3 linked regions of the Homo sapiens genome follow. The protein of the gene in region 2 interacts with the protein of the main gene of each other region in a pairwise test. Each region holds a gene or a part of one and is shown on either strand. Other genes may lie near its edges.

The links.
Region 1: the proteins of PBXIP1 (region 2) and LCA5L interact in binary tests that used the Homo sapiens proteins (3 or more experiments, as listed by UniProt).
Region 3: the proteins of PBXIP1 (region 2) and WASHC3 interact in binary tests that used the Homo sapiens proteins (3 or more experiments, as listed by UniProt).

The regions. Positions count from the first base shown.
Region 1 is NC_000021.9:39,444,228-39,447,976, forward strand, and holds the start of LCA5L (lebercilin-like protein), read right to left. Parts: upstream 1,552-3,749; 5' UTR 1,498-1,551; exon of another isoform or gene 1,223-1,497; intron 519-1,222; exon of another isoform or gene 417-518; intron 1-416.
Region 2 is NC_000001.11:154,949,446-154,953,194, forward strand, and holds part of PBXIP1 (pre-B-cell leukemia transcription factor-interacting protein 1), read right to left. Parts: intron 2,477-3,749; coding exon 2,350-2,476; intron 2,091-2,349; coding exon 2,026-2,090; intron 1,953-2,025; coding exon 1,787-1,952; intron 1-1,786. UniProt on the Homo sapiens protein: Regulator of pre-B-cell leukemia transcription factors (BPXs) function. Inhibits the binding of PBX1-HOX complex to DNA and blocks the transcriptional activity of E2A-PBX1.
Region 3 is NC_000012.12:102,060,019-102,063,767, forward strand, and holds the start of WASHC3 (WASH complex subunit 3), read right to left. Parts: upstream 1,974-3,749; 5' UTR 1,945-1,973; coding exon 1,894-1,944; intron 1,329-1,893; coding exon 1,230-1,328; intron 1-1,229. UniProt on the Homo sapiens protein: Acts as a component of the WASH core complex that functions as a nucleation-promoting factor (NPF) at the surface of endosomes, where it recruits and activates the Arp2/3 complex to induce actin polymerization, playing a key role in the fission of tubules that serve as transport intermediates during endosome sorting.

The sequences.
Region 1 (3,749 bases), on a different chromosome or scaffold from region 2:
AACTCCTACATGATTCCTGTCTTTGCGCTGGGAAGAAGGCTCTGGGTTCTTTTGTTCTTCAGGACAGTCCCTTGTAAAGCTCTTGCCATAGTTCTGTTCCAGGGGCACTGTCATATTTATACCTAACAAAGCTAAGGGGTGTCTTTACATTTTTAGCTTGTTAGCAGGATGCTTATATGGCCTTGCTGACCCGGTTTAAAAGTTGCAATTTGCAAAATACATACTGAAAATACTGCACTTTTACCTATGGAAGTTGTAATTTATATAAGGAAATTGTAATTTATATAATCCTTTAAAAAACTTACTCATACGAAATAACAGAGAACGGGGAAATACCATTAAGACTGTCATGCTCAAGTGGGGGAGGGGCAGACTCAGGGAAACCAATTAGGAAGCAAGTAAAATAATCCACGCACCAGATGATGGGGGCCTGGACCAAGGTGGTGACAGTGGCGGTTGAGAGAAATGGTAGAATTGTGAATCTATTCTGGGTGCATTTTGAAGGCAGTGCTGACAGACTGAAGGTGAGGAAGAGAAAAACAGGACTCAAACAGGATGCAAGACTCGGGCAACTGGAGGATGGAATTTCCAGCAACTATGATGGATTAAGATTGTGGGAGGACAGGCTTGGCTTGGGGAATTATTGAGCGCTATCTTGGACGAGCTGTGTTTGAGATGCCGTAGACATCCAAGTAGGGATGTGGCAGGCAGCTAAATGCAGGGATCTGGTGTTCAGGGGAGGGGCGAGGGCTGGGAATGCACACTTGGGGCTCACTGGAATTCAGATAGGCTCTGAGTACAGGCGACTGGATGAGTTCATCTAGGGATTGAGTGTAGACAGAAAAAAGGCTCAAGCTCACATTCAGCCGTGAAAACTGGTCTCTGAAAAAAGTTAACCGTTGGCTTAAGTGTGGCAACGAAACGTTAACACGCTGAGGGGAGGGTGTGGATAAAGAGCCCCGAGGCTGGGTGAGTGGGGGACAAACACAGACAGAGAAGACATTTCAAAAGATTTAGATTCCTACGAGATAGGGAGATGCCAGCGCTAAGGTTAGAAAGAAAAACTAATCCAAAGCAAAACAGCAAGTAAGCAGAGGCAAAATCGGAGGTCAGATAGAAGATTCAGATAGAAAAACCCCAAAGTTCCCTCGGTGGGGCGGCGGTGAGATCGGCCTCCGCCCCCTCGCCAGACCCAGGCGCGGCCCCGGGAGCGCTAGGTCACCTCGGCCCAGGCCGTCCCCCTGCCCAGCGGGCCTGAGAGTACGTGTGTCGCCGGGGCGCCCGGTCACTGCCGAGCCGGGGTAGCTGTTCCTTGGCAAACTGTGCCGCGAGGAGGAAACGGCGGGGCGCCAGCGAGGCAGGCAGGGGCGAGGACTGAGTGACCGGCGATACTGGAAGCCCAGAAAGAGCGTAGCAGGAGGGTCCGGAAGGGCCCAGAGCTGGGGCTGTAACAGGGTAACCGGCTGAGGGGGACGACGGCAGCAGCGGGGCCGTTACCTGCTCCGCGCTGTTCCCACGACTGCGCCAACGCCGCAGCGCCGGCGCGTCCCCATGGAAACCCGCGCGCGGGGCCTCCTGGGAAGCGCCGGCCTGCGGGGGCTGGGCGCGCGCATGCGCACTCGGGCAGCAGGAGCCGCGGCGGGGAGGGGCGTCTTGGGCCTGGAGGTCAGTGTGGCCTCGCGTTTGTCTTCGGTGACGGGAAGTGAGTTTCTTGTGTAGACGTCTGTAAACGATCCTCCTGCCGTCCCTGTTCGGCGCCCGGGACCCTGCCTTCCCGCGTGGCCGCACCGAGACGAGGGAGCCTGTCACGCGCTCTGGCGCTCTCCTGACCTCTTAAGGCTCTGTCAGTCTTAGGTAACTTGAGTCAGTAGGTGGGTGTAGACGCCTGGTCAATTCCTGGGAAGCACAGTTCCCCTATTAACCCCTTGTCATAAAGACGATTTTTTTTTTTTTTTTGTAAAACAAAATCTGATGACAAAACAATGCATGTTTGGCATAGAGAATTTAGAAATGTACAGGCAAGTCCAAAGCAAAAGTCAAAATCACCTAGATGATGGAGTTATAGATGTTTTTTAATGACAGCATAGGAATTTGGCATAATTTAGGAAGACTTACATTGTTTCCTTTTATTTATTTACTTTTTTTCCTGCATCAAAGCCATGTTGAATATCCTTGCAGATGAATCTTTGAGGTCACCCCTGACTGTTTCCTTAGGATAAATTCCTACAAGCGAGGTTGCAGGGCCAAAGCATATGCTCACTTTGAGGCTTTCTAAAGGTAGAGGGAAACTGCCTTCCAGTAAGTGTCCCGATACTTGGCCCGCATTGGAAATTCTCTTTTTTCTTAAAATTTTTTTGCCCATTTTATTGTCAAAAATTGGCATCTTTAATTGTATTCACTTCCTTTTTAGTAGGAAGAATAGACTTTTTCCCATATCTTGAGTGCCATTTGTCCTTATTGTGTGATTTGCATTTTCCTGTCTTTTGTCCATTTTAAAACTTGACATTCATCTTTGTAAAAATGGGTTTTGTAAGGACTTTTGATGCTTGAAAACTTGGCTTGTGATATACGTTGCAAATATTTCCTCAATTTGTCAGTTACCTTTAATTTTGTTTACAGTGTATTTTGGTATTTGTGTAGAGTCAAGCTTATTACATTTCTCTATAGTTTCTGCATTTGGTTTTTATATAAAAGGAGAAACGGGTGTTTTTTTTCAAATTGACTTTAATCCTACTTTGGTAGAAGTGGGTTAGGACAAGCTTTCTCTCCATATCACCATTTCTTCCTCTAGAAATGCATGACCCACCCTGAGTTTTGGTGGGCCATGCATTTCTAGAACTCCTTAGGTAGGGAATTATCCGTATAAGATGGGTGCCGGTTGTTTTTGCTGGTGGTGGTGGGCGGGGCAACATCTCCAGGTAGGCAAACATTAGACAAATGTCACTCTAGACTTGACATTATGGAAAGATGGGCTGATGCTTGGTGGGTGGTGGTGGCCCCATGACAGTAACGAGAGCGGAGTTTTGCCATTGCGGGAGCATCCAACCCTGGAGCTCATGACTGGAGGAATTGAAAGGTAGAGTTTCCTGAGAATGGTTTCCTCCTCTTTTCTACCAGCTTTTCCCAGTCTGTAGACATGATAAGTCACTGCAAATCTGCCCTTGAATCTTTCTTTGCTTTCGCTTTTGCTTTTTTTTTTTTTTTTTTTTGAGACGTATCACTCTATCGCTCAGGCTGGAATGCAGTGGCGCCATCCCAGCTCACCACAACCTCCGCTTCCTGGGTTCAGGTGATTCTCCTGCATCAGCCTCCTGAGTAGCTGGGATTACAGGTGTGAGTCACAACACCCGGCTAATTCTTTTTGTATTTTTAGTAGAGATGGGGTTTTGCGATGTTGGCTAGGCTGGCCTTGAACTCCTGACCTCAAGTGATCTGCCCGCCTCGGCCTCCCAAAATGTTGGGATTTCAGGCATAAGCCACCGTGCCTGGCCTTTGCTTTTGCTTTCGAAGGGGTGTTCTTTTCTGTGTACACAATGGAAGGAGAAGAGCCATGGCCTTTCACTATTCTGGGGCCATCTCCATCATGCCACATAAAAAGCATAGCCTTTATTTCTCTATATTAGGTTCCTAGGTTCCTAGGGATGTCATAACAGACTACCACGAACTTAGGGGCTTAGAACAATAGAACTTTATCTTCTCACATTTCTGGAGGTCAGAAGTATGAAACCAAGTTGTCTGAAAGTCCATGT
Region 2 (3,749 bases):
TTGGTTTTCATCCTCCACCCCATCTCCATCATGAATGAGACACAGGGATCCCCAAATTCCATCCTGAGCCTCGGCATCTACATCTTTATATAAGCACACACTTCCTAGATTCACCTAAGGATAGCCAATGTGTGGCTCTCACAGTCTTGTTTCCACCTCCCATACCTGGAACAGTGTTAACTGATCATGGCACCTGGCATGTTCTTTAAATCCTTTTCCACACAGTGCTCCAGGCAGACCACACCAATCAATCACAGGTGATACCATGTATGTTTCATGTACCATGTGGAACAGGTATGCCAGCCCTGGCCCAAACCTTAGCACAAGGGATGTGAACCAAGAACTGGGAAGACGCCCTGACTATAGTGGGAGAGGGGAGGGTCAGGATGTGTGGGTAAATAGGAAACATTCCTTTTGGGGGAGGATGCTAGGACAGACGCCTGGCCTAGGTGGGTTACCCTAGCCCAGCCCCTCCTGCCTGTGCCTCCCAAAGTGTGAGGATTACAGGTGTGAGCCACCACACCCAGCCTATTTTTATTTTTATTTATTTTATTTTATTTTATTTTATTTTATTTATTTTTATTTTTTGAGGCAGAGTCTACCTCTGTAACCCAGGCTGGAGTGCAGTGGCACAATCTTGGCTCACTGCAACCTCCGCCTCCCAGGTTCAAGCGATTCTCCTGCCTCAGCTTCCCAGGTAGCTGGGAAGTAGCTGGGACTACAGGCGTGCACCACCACACCGAGCTAATTTTTGTATTTTTAATAGAGACGGGGTTTCACCATGTTGCCCAGGCTGGTCTCAAACTTCTGACCTCAGGTGATCCACCCACCTTGGCCTCTCAAAGTGCTGGGACTACAGGCGTGAGCCACTGCACCCTGCCGCCTATTTTTATTTCCTTTAGAGACAGGGTCTCCCTCTGTTGCCCAGGCTAGAGTGAAGTGGGATGACCATGGCTCACTGCAGTCTTGAATTCCTGGGCTCAAGCAATCCTCCTACCTCAGCCTCCCAAAGTGCTGGGATTATAGGCACGAGCCACCATGCCTGGCCCAGGTCTGCATCATCTTTGCCTGACCACTGCAGTTGCCTCCTAAATGGCCCCCAGGCCCTCCATCCTGTCACTCAACAGGGACCAATTCCTACACTCCTCTGCCACAAGCCTGGAACAGAGCTCCTTAGCACAAGACAGGTGGTCCCCACTCCTTTGCTGATGCTGCAGCCTTGGCCTAAAACATTCTCTTTTCCCTGCCCTACGTACCAAAAGCCTACTCTGTGCTCAGGGCTCCACTCAAATGTCACCTCTCACTGTCCCAGCCTCTCCCTTGCCCTCAACCAGTCCCCTGACTGAATGGCCTCTCCTTCCTTTGGGAGTACCTTAATTACAGTTCTGTACCACTCTTAGGTCTGATATGCACCTTGGCTCAGTCTGATCTGCCGCTTACATAGGCGGTAACCAACCATCTTCCCTCTGCCCAGGCCCAGGGCCAGCACAAGGAAGGGACTCCAGAAATGAGGGTTGAATTCTGGAAGCAAGAAAAGAGGAGGTCCCCATGGCAGAGAGGAAAGAGTCAACCAGATGTGGGCCCTGCCCCTTACCAGCAGTGTGACCTTGGTCAAGTCATTCAACCTTTCTGGGCCTCAACGTCCCAGGGGTAGTGGTGAGAAAGGAGAGCACCAAGCTGCTCAGCCCTAGGGCCTGGACCACAGCATGTGCTCAGTAGTGATGGCTGATCCCTCTCCCATACCTTCTAGAAGGAGAGTGACAGGAGAGGCAAGGAAGACTCTCACCTGCTTTGGGGGTTGAAGGCAGGCTCTGTGGAGGGCTCTGGCCTTCCAGGTCCTGTGTGTCTGGTCCCAGGCCTGTCACCACGGTGGTCTCCTGCAGGTCTCCCTGGACTACTGTGTCTCCTGGGCCAGGAGGCTCCACACCACAAACATCACCTTCCAGGGTGCCCTAATGCAGATGCAGCAGTGAGCAGCTGCTAGCCCTCCCCGCCTCCCTTCCTTCCCACAGCAAATCTCCTCACCTTGACCTCAGTCTCCTCTGTTAGAATGCTGCCAGACTGAGGGCTTTCAGTCTGGAAGAGCGTCCCTGCGGTAGGAGAAAAGGCGCAGAAAAACCCACTGCCCCAGCTGAATTTCCTTTGCAGCCCTCTGTCCATCCCACGGGCCCCTACCAGGTTGGAAGAGGCAGGAAAAAGCCAGGATGGAATGAGAAAAGGAGTTTGTCAACTGAGATTAATGGAGGAACTAAAACGAACCAGCCTCCCTTTCTCTGAGGAAACTGAGAAACCCCAAAATATGGAGAATAGCTTTGTCCGGTAAGCTATGTCCTAAGCAGGGCCCAGTACCTTCTCCATCCATGGTCCCAGCTAATTCTTTCCCATCTGTCTTGGAGGGGCTGTGAGGGGCCTGCAGGGCTCTCTCAGATTCTGGGTCCATCCTGGATGCCGGGCCCAGTGTCTCCACTGGCAGGCTCTGGGAGGAGAAGTGCAAGGAGAAGGGCTGCACCCAAGAATGGGGCCCCAGCCCACATCCCAGAAACACACACATTCAGTCATGAGCTGGCCCAAAAAGGGGCTCGGGGCAGCACCAAGTGCTCGGCATTCCCCAGCCTCACTCACTGCGAGGAGGAACTTTCAGGGGCCAGGTTTCCGCTACACAGCGCCGCACCACCAGACCAAGGCACTGGTTGCAGTACAAACCTGGTGCCCCGCCTCCAGAAGGTGAGCTAGAGCCTACGTTTCCCTCCCATCAAGATCAGCAGCACTTCCTTCCCCACAGATGAACAACCCAGATATTATAATATTAAGGGTGGGAAGAAGGCAAGAGAACAAAGTCCCCTGGGTGCCCACGGGTCACAGTTATGCCTCCCAGGGTGTCCCTGCAGCTGCCCTCTCAACTGGACAACTACTTACATCTCTCAAGCCTTTCTGGCCTTTCCCGCTGGCCCCTGACACTCCCCCGACACCCGTCTCCCAGCAGCTGCTCACAGAAGCCCAACCCACCCCAACCACAGACAGCCTGTCTCCAGGGCACTCTCAGCCTGGACATCCAGCCCTGGCCACACAGCCTCGGCCTCCTCCCTCTGCCTACTCCCCTTCCATAGGGCCCTGGCCTGCCACCCGCCCCGTGGCTCCAACTATCCCTCTGAGAGTAATGCTTCACCTTAGTTATGTCTTTGCTATTTTCAAAACATTTTTATTCTCATGGTCCCCCCTACAAGGCAAAAATCATGACGCCCGTTTTACAGGAGAGGACAGAGAGGTGAAATGGCATGCCCAAGGTCCCCCAGCTGTCAACAAAGACACCTCAACAGGAGGCCAGGGCTCTGAGAGCCTGGTGCCCGTCTGCTCATACCTGCCTTCCCTCTGCCAGTGAGCCCCAGTCCATTATCTTGCTCCAGCGTCATCCCCAAGGTCAACTCCTTACTCCCAGCTGGGTTCCTCAAGGGCACCTCAAACTCAACATGTTGAAACTGAGCTTCTCTCCTCCTCCCCTCCTGGTGGCTCTAATATACAAAGTCGCTACGTCTTGGAACTCTCAGAGATGCCTTTGACAAATTTTTGCCATCCCTTCTCTAGCCACTCAGTTCCCCATCCTGCCAACCCCCTTCTCCCTCCTCAGTGGGCTTCTGCCCCACCAGCTGCTACCTGGACTGCTGCAGGGGGTCTTTGAAACACTCTCTCCCTGTTCCCACCCAGCATGCACAGTGGCTTCACCCTCTGCCTGAGACAATGATTGTCCTGAT
Region 3 (3,749 bases), on a different chromosome or scaffold from region 2:
CAAAACAATAACTGGAATTTCATACAAGTAAAAAATAGTTTTCCCATCTCCATGCAATTTTTATTAATAGTAGTAACACACTTAACAAAAACTCTAATTGCTAAGGCTATACCTTACATAAGACAGAATGTTCAACAGACTTACTTGTGAATATCTAAGTCCCATAATTTACTTTGCTCTTTCCTTAAATGCAATTTCAACCCATGGTTCCCATTGTCTTCCCCATCCTCTTTTGGCTTTTTAAAAGACAGGGATTCCCTGGATCCTGGATCTAGTACCTAATCCTCTTTTTTAAAACAAAAACAAAAACAAAACACTGAGTTTCTCTGTTGTCCAGTCTTGTCTCAAATTCCCGGGCGCAAGTGATCCTCCTGCCTCTGCCTCCCGAGTAGCTGGGATTACAGGTGCGCACTGCTGTGCCAGTTCTGGTACCTAATCCCTAGTTGGGTACTTAATCCTTACATCACAAGTCATTTGCAGAAAATATTTTCATTTCTATAATCATATTTGATGCCAAAGTTATGTTTCTAGGCTATCTCCTCTAGCCATCTTTTAGATCCAGAATGTAAAATAAATTTAAACAATGTGGTTTTGGGGTACGGGAACGAATGACAAATTGCAAAATAAAAACTGTTTTCAACTGTGAAATTTTAGAAGCCGGGCGCGGTGGCTCACGCCTGTAATCCCAGCACTTTGGGAGGCCGAGGCTAGTGGATCGCCCAAGGTCAGGAATTCGAGACCAGCTTGATCAACATGTTGGAACCCCGTTTCTACTAAATATAAAAAATTAGCCAGGCATGGTGGCGCATGCCTGTAATCCCAGCTACTCAGGAGGCTGAGGCAGGAGAATCGCTTGAACCCGGGAGGTGGAGGTTGCAGTGAGCCGAGATCGCGCCACTGCACTGTAGCTTGGGTGACAGAGTGAGACCCTGTCTCACAAAAAAAAAAAAAAAAAAAAAAAAAATTAGATTTCCTATTGTTCCCTTTAATCGCAATAAGCCTGACTGACCTATCTCACAGGGACCTCTAGAACACTAACTCAGTAGAGGAGGGGTGCAGGATTGATTTTAACAGAGTAAAAGAGAACCTAAGATGTGTTAACACAATTGGGTGATGAGAGGTCACGGTACATGAATAAAGACTGTAATTCTTGTTTTACTCCATTTGTCAGTCTCAGCAGTGAAAGGTGATTTCCAGGCGACTCTATAAACCAGTATCACCGGACCTACCTCCTCACAAACTGTAGAAAAGCGGTTGAGGAACTGTACAGTGTGCACCACAAATTGGTTTAGAAAAGCCACCGTTCTTTTCTGTTGAATAGCTGGCACCTGTGTTACGTAAAAACAAACATGGTTCATACAGGAGGAACGTACACAGTGCAAATCTTTTCATATTTGGACATAATCACGAGGCACTTTGCTGTGTGATATGAATTTCTTGAAGGACTGGGAATAGTCATTAACTTGTTTCCTAAGCTGTGGGTGGGGTGTCCGAAGATGACAGAGGTGCACAAAAGTTTGAGAACAGGCTCTAGACTCACTGGTACGAATTTTGGCAGGCAAAAAGCACCACACATAAACACACACAAAATCTTGGGGGCTGAATAAGAGGTAGGGCTAGCTATCGCAACCGGCGTGTGTCGCCGGCGGCAGAGAGACAAGCGAGATGGGAAGCGACAGTTGGGAGATGCACACCGTCTCCTTAATCAGCTCAGGAGGGACCCCATTTCAAGGTGGACTGTGGGGCTCTCCCTCCTGAGGCCCCACAGGCCTGTCACAAGGGCCCGAGGCCGTGACAGGGTGGGGACTCGGAAGGTGGGTGTCTCCCCGGAAAGCTGCGTCTTCCCCATCCTCCTCCCGGCTCGTCGGGAGTCTAGCACCGTCTTTTACAAACCTTGGTCAGGTCTATGCCTGACCCCATGAGAGGAAGCCCGTCCTCATCCATCTCCTCAGCGGGCGGTGGACCCCGAGTTCACCCACAAACCCCTCCCAGATGGGGCCCGCCCAACCCGGTAATCACGTCTCAACTTTCCCCCCAAGTGCCCGCCTCCGGGGCCCTTCCCGCCGGAAGAAAGCTTCTCCGCTCACTAATCACTCGGCGGCTTCCGGAGAGCCCGCCTCCTCGCTCGGCATTCTGGGATTGGTAGTTTTAGTCCAGATTGTGACGTCAATTTCGGGGTGGCGCGCGGTGGTGCAAGGATGCAGTTAGAGCACTGAAATCTTAGAAAGGAGGCAACAAAACAAAACAAAAAAACAAAGCCAGAAGTTGCGTCCTTTTGAGGTTATCCCTACTTAGTCCTGTCTGTTATATAATAACTCCGTCATTCCTTGAGCAACAATTTTTTTTTTGTTGTTGTTAATCCTAAGTGCCATATACTCTGCTAGGCTTTTACTGGGAAAACAAAGATTGAGTTTGATTGCTGCACGGGAGAGGTTTATGCCCTGAAGAATGAGAAATAAGACCTACTTCCAAAGCGTGTGTGTGTGTATACACACAAGTTCTCGCTATTTCCCCAGGCTGGTCTCGAACTCCTGGCCTCAAGCGATTCTCCTGCCTCAGCCTCACACGATTCTCCTGCCTCAGCCTCACAGAGTGCTGGGATTACAGGCGTGAGCCAACGCGCCTGGTCTTCCAAAGGTTTTTAAAACATGAAATAAAATGTCAACTACTAGATGTGAGGCACAAACCTACGGAAGTGACTGCCACTTACAGGGAGCATCAAAAAGATGAAGACCAAGACTGCAGTGGGCAGTTTTGTTTTAAAGATGGGGGGTCTCGCTTTGTTACCCAGTCTGGCGTGCAGTGAGGATCATAGCTCACCTTAGTCTCAAACCCTTTGGCTCAAATGATCCTCATGCCTTGGCCTCCCTAAGTGCTGGGATTATAGGTGTGAGCCACTGGCACCTGGCCTGTTGGTTTGGTTGAAGCAAATAATCCCATAAATGGAGAATGGTAGGAAATGAGGTAAGAGTGTTACTGGTGGAGGGTGTCCAGGTTCTTTTGAACAAAGAATTGGACAAAACGCACAAATCAAGGAGAGAATGAACCAACAAAAGCAAAGATTCATTGAAAACCAAAGTACGCTCCACAGTGTACTGGATACAGAATCTTCTTAGGTCCAAATACCCACTAGAGATTTCCCATTGGACACTGGTGTTCTCCTCATGCAAATGAAGTGGTGGCCCACAATCAGTCTGATTGGTTATGGAAAGCAACCAATCAGAGGCTGAAGTAAAATGACAAAGGTCATACTCCTATACAAACATCTGATTGGTTGTGGAAAGCAACCAATCATTGGCTAAAGTGATGTTACTTAGTTGCACTTCTATGCAAAGGAAGATTTGGCCCGCAATCAGTCTGATTGGTTGAGGTACTTTCAATTTCCATCTGCCTGTCAGAAAAGGTGGGGATTTGCAAAGGGAGTAGCCGCTGGTCCTTTTGTTACTTAGGTGTGGAAATTTGGGGTTTACCTTTTGATTTAGTTCTAGGAAGTCAGCGTGAATCGGCGTTAGGTTCCCTGCCTCCAGACCCTATTCTGCCTCAGGAGACGTAGCCAGAAAATTTTCGTTTAAGGGCCTTTTATGCCAGATTTGATACTATAGTCCATGTTTATCTAATGTGATTCATAGGCCATCTGTAGCAATTATTTGGGTGTGGGTGGTGTTTCTTAAAGTTGCACGTTGCCCAGCTTAACCTTAGCGTGATCACCTTCTCCTGATTGAACTTTCTTAATTTTTCTTTCAGGAAGG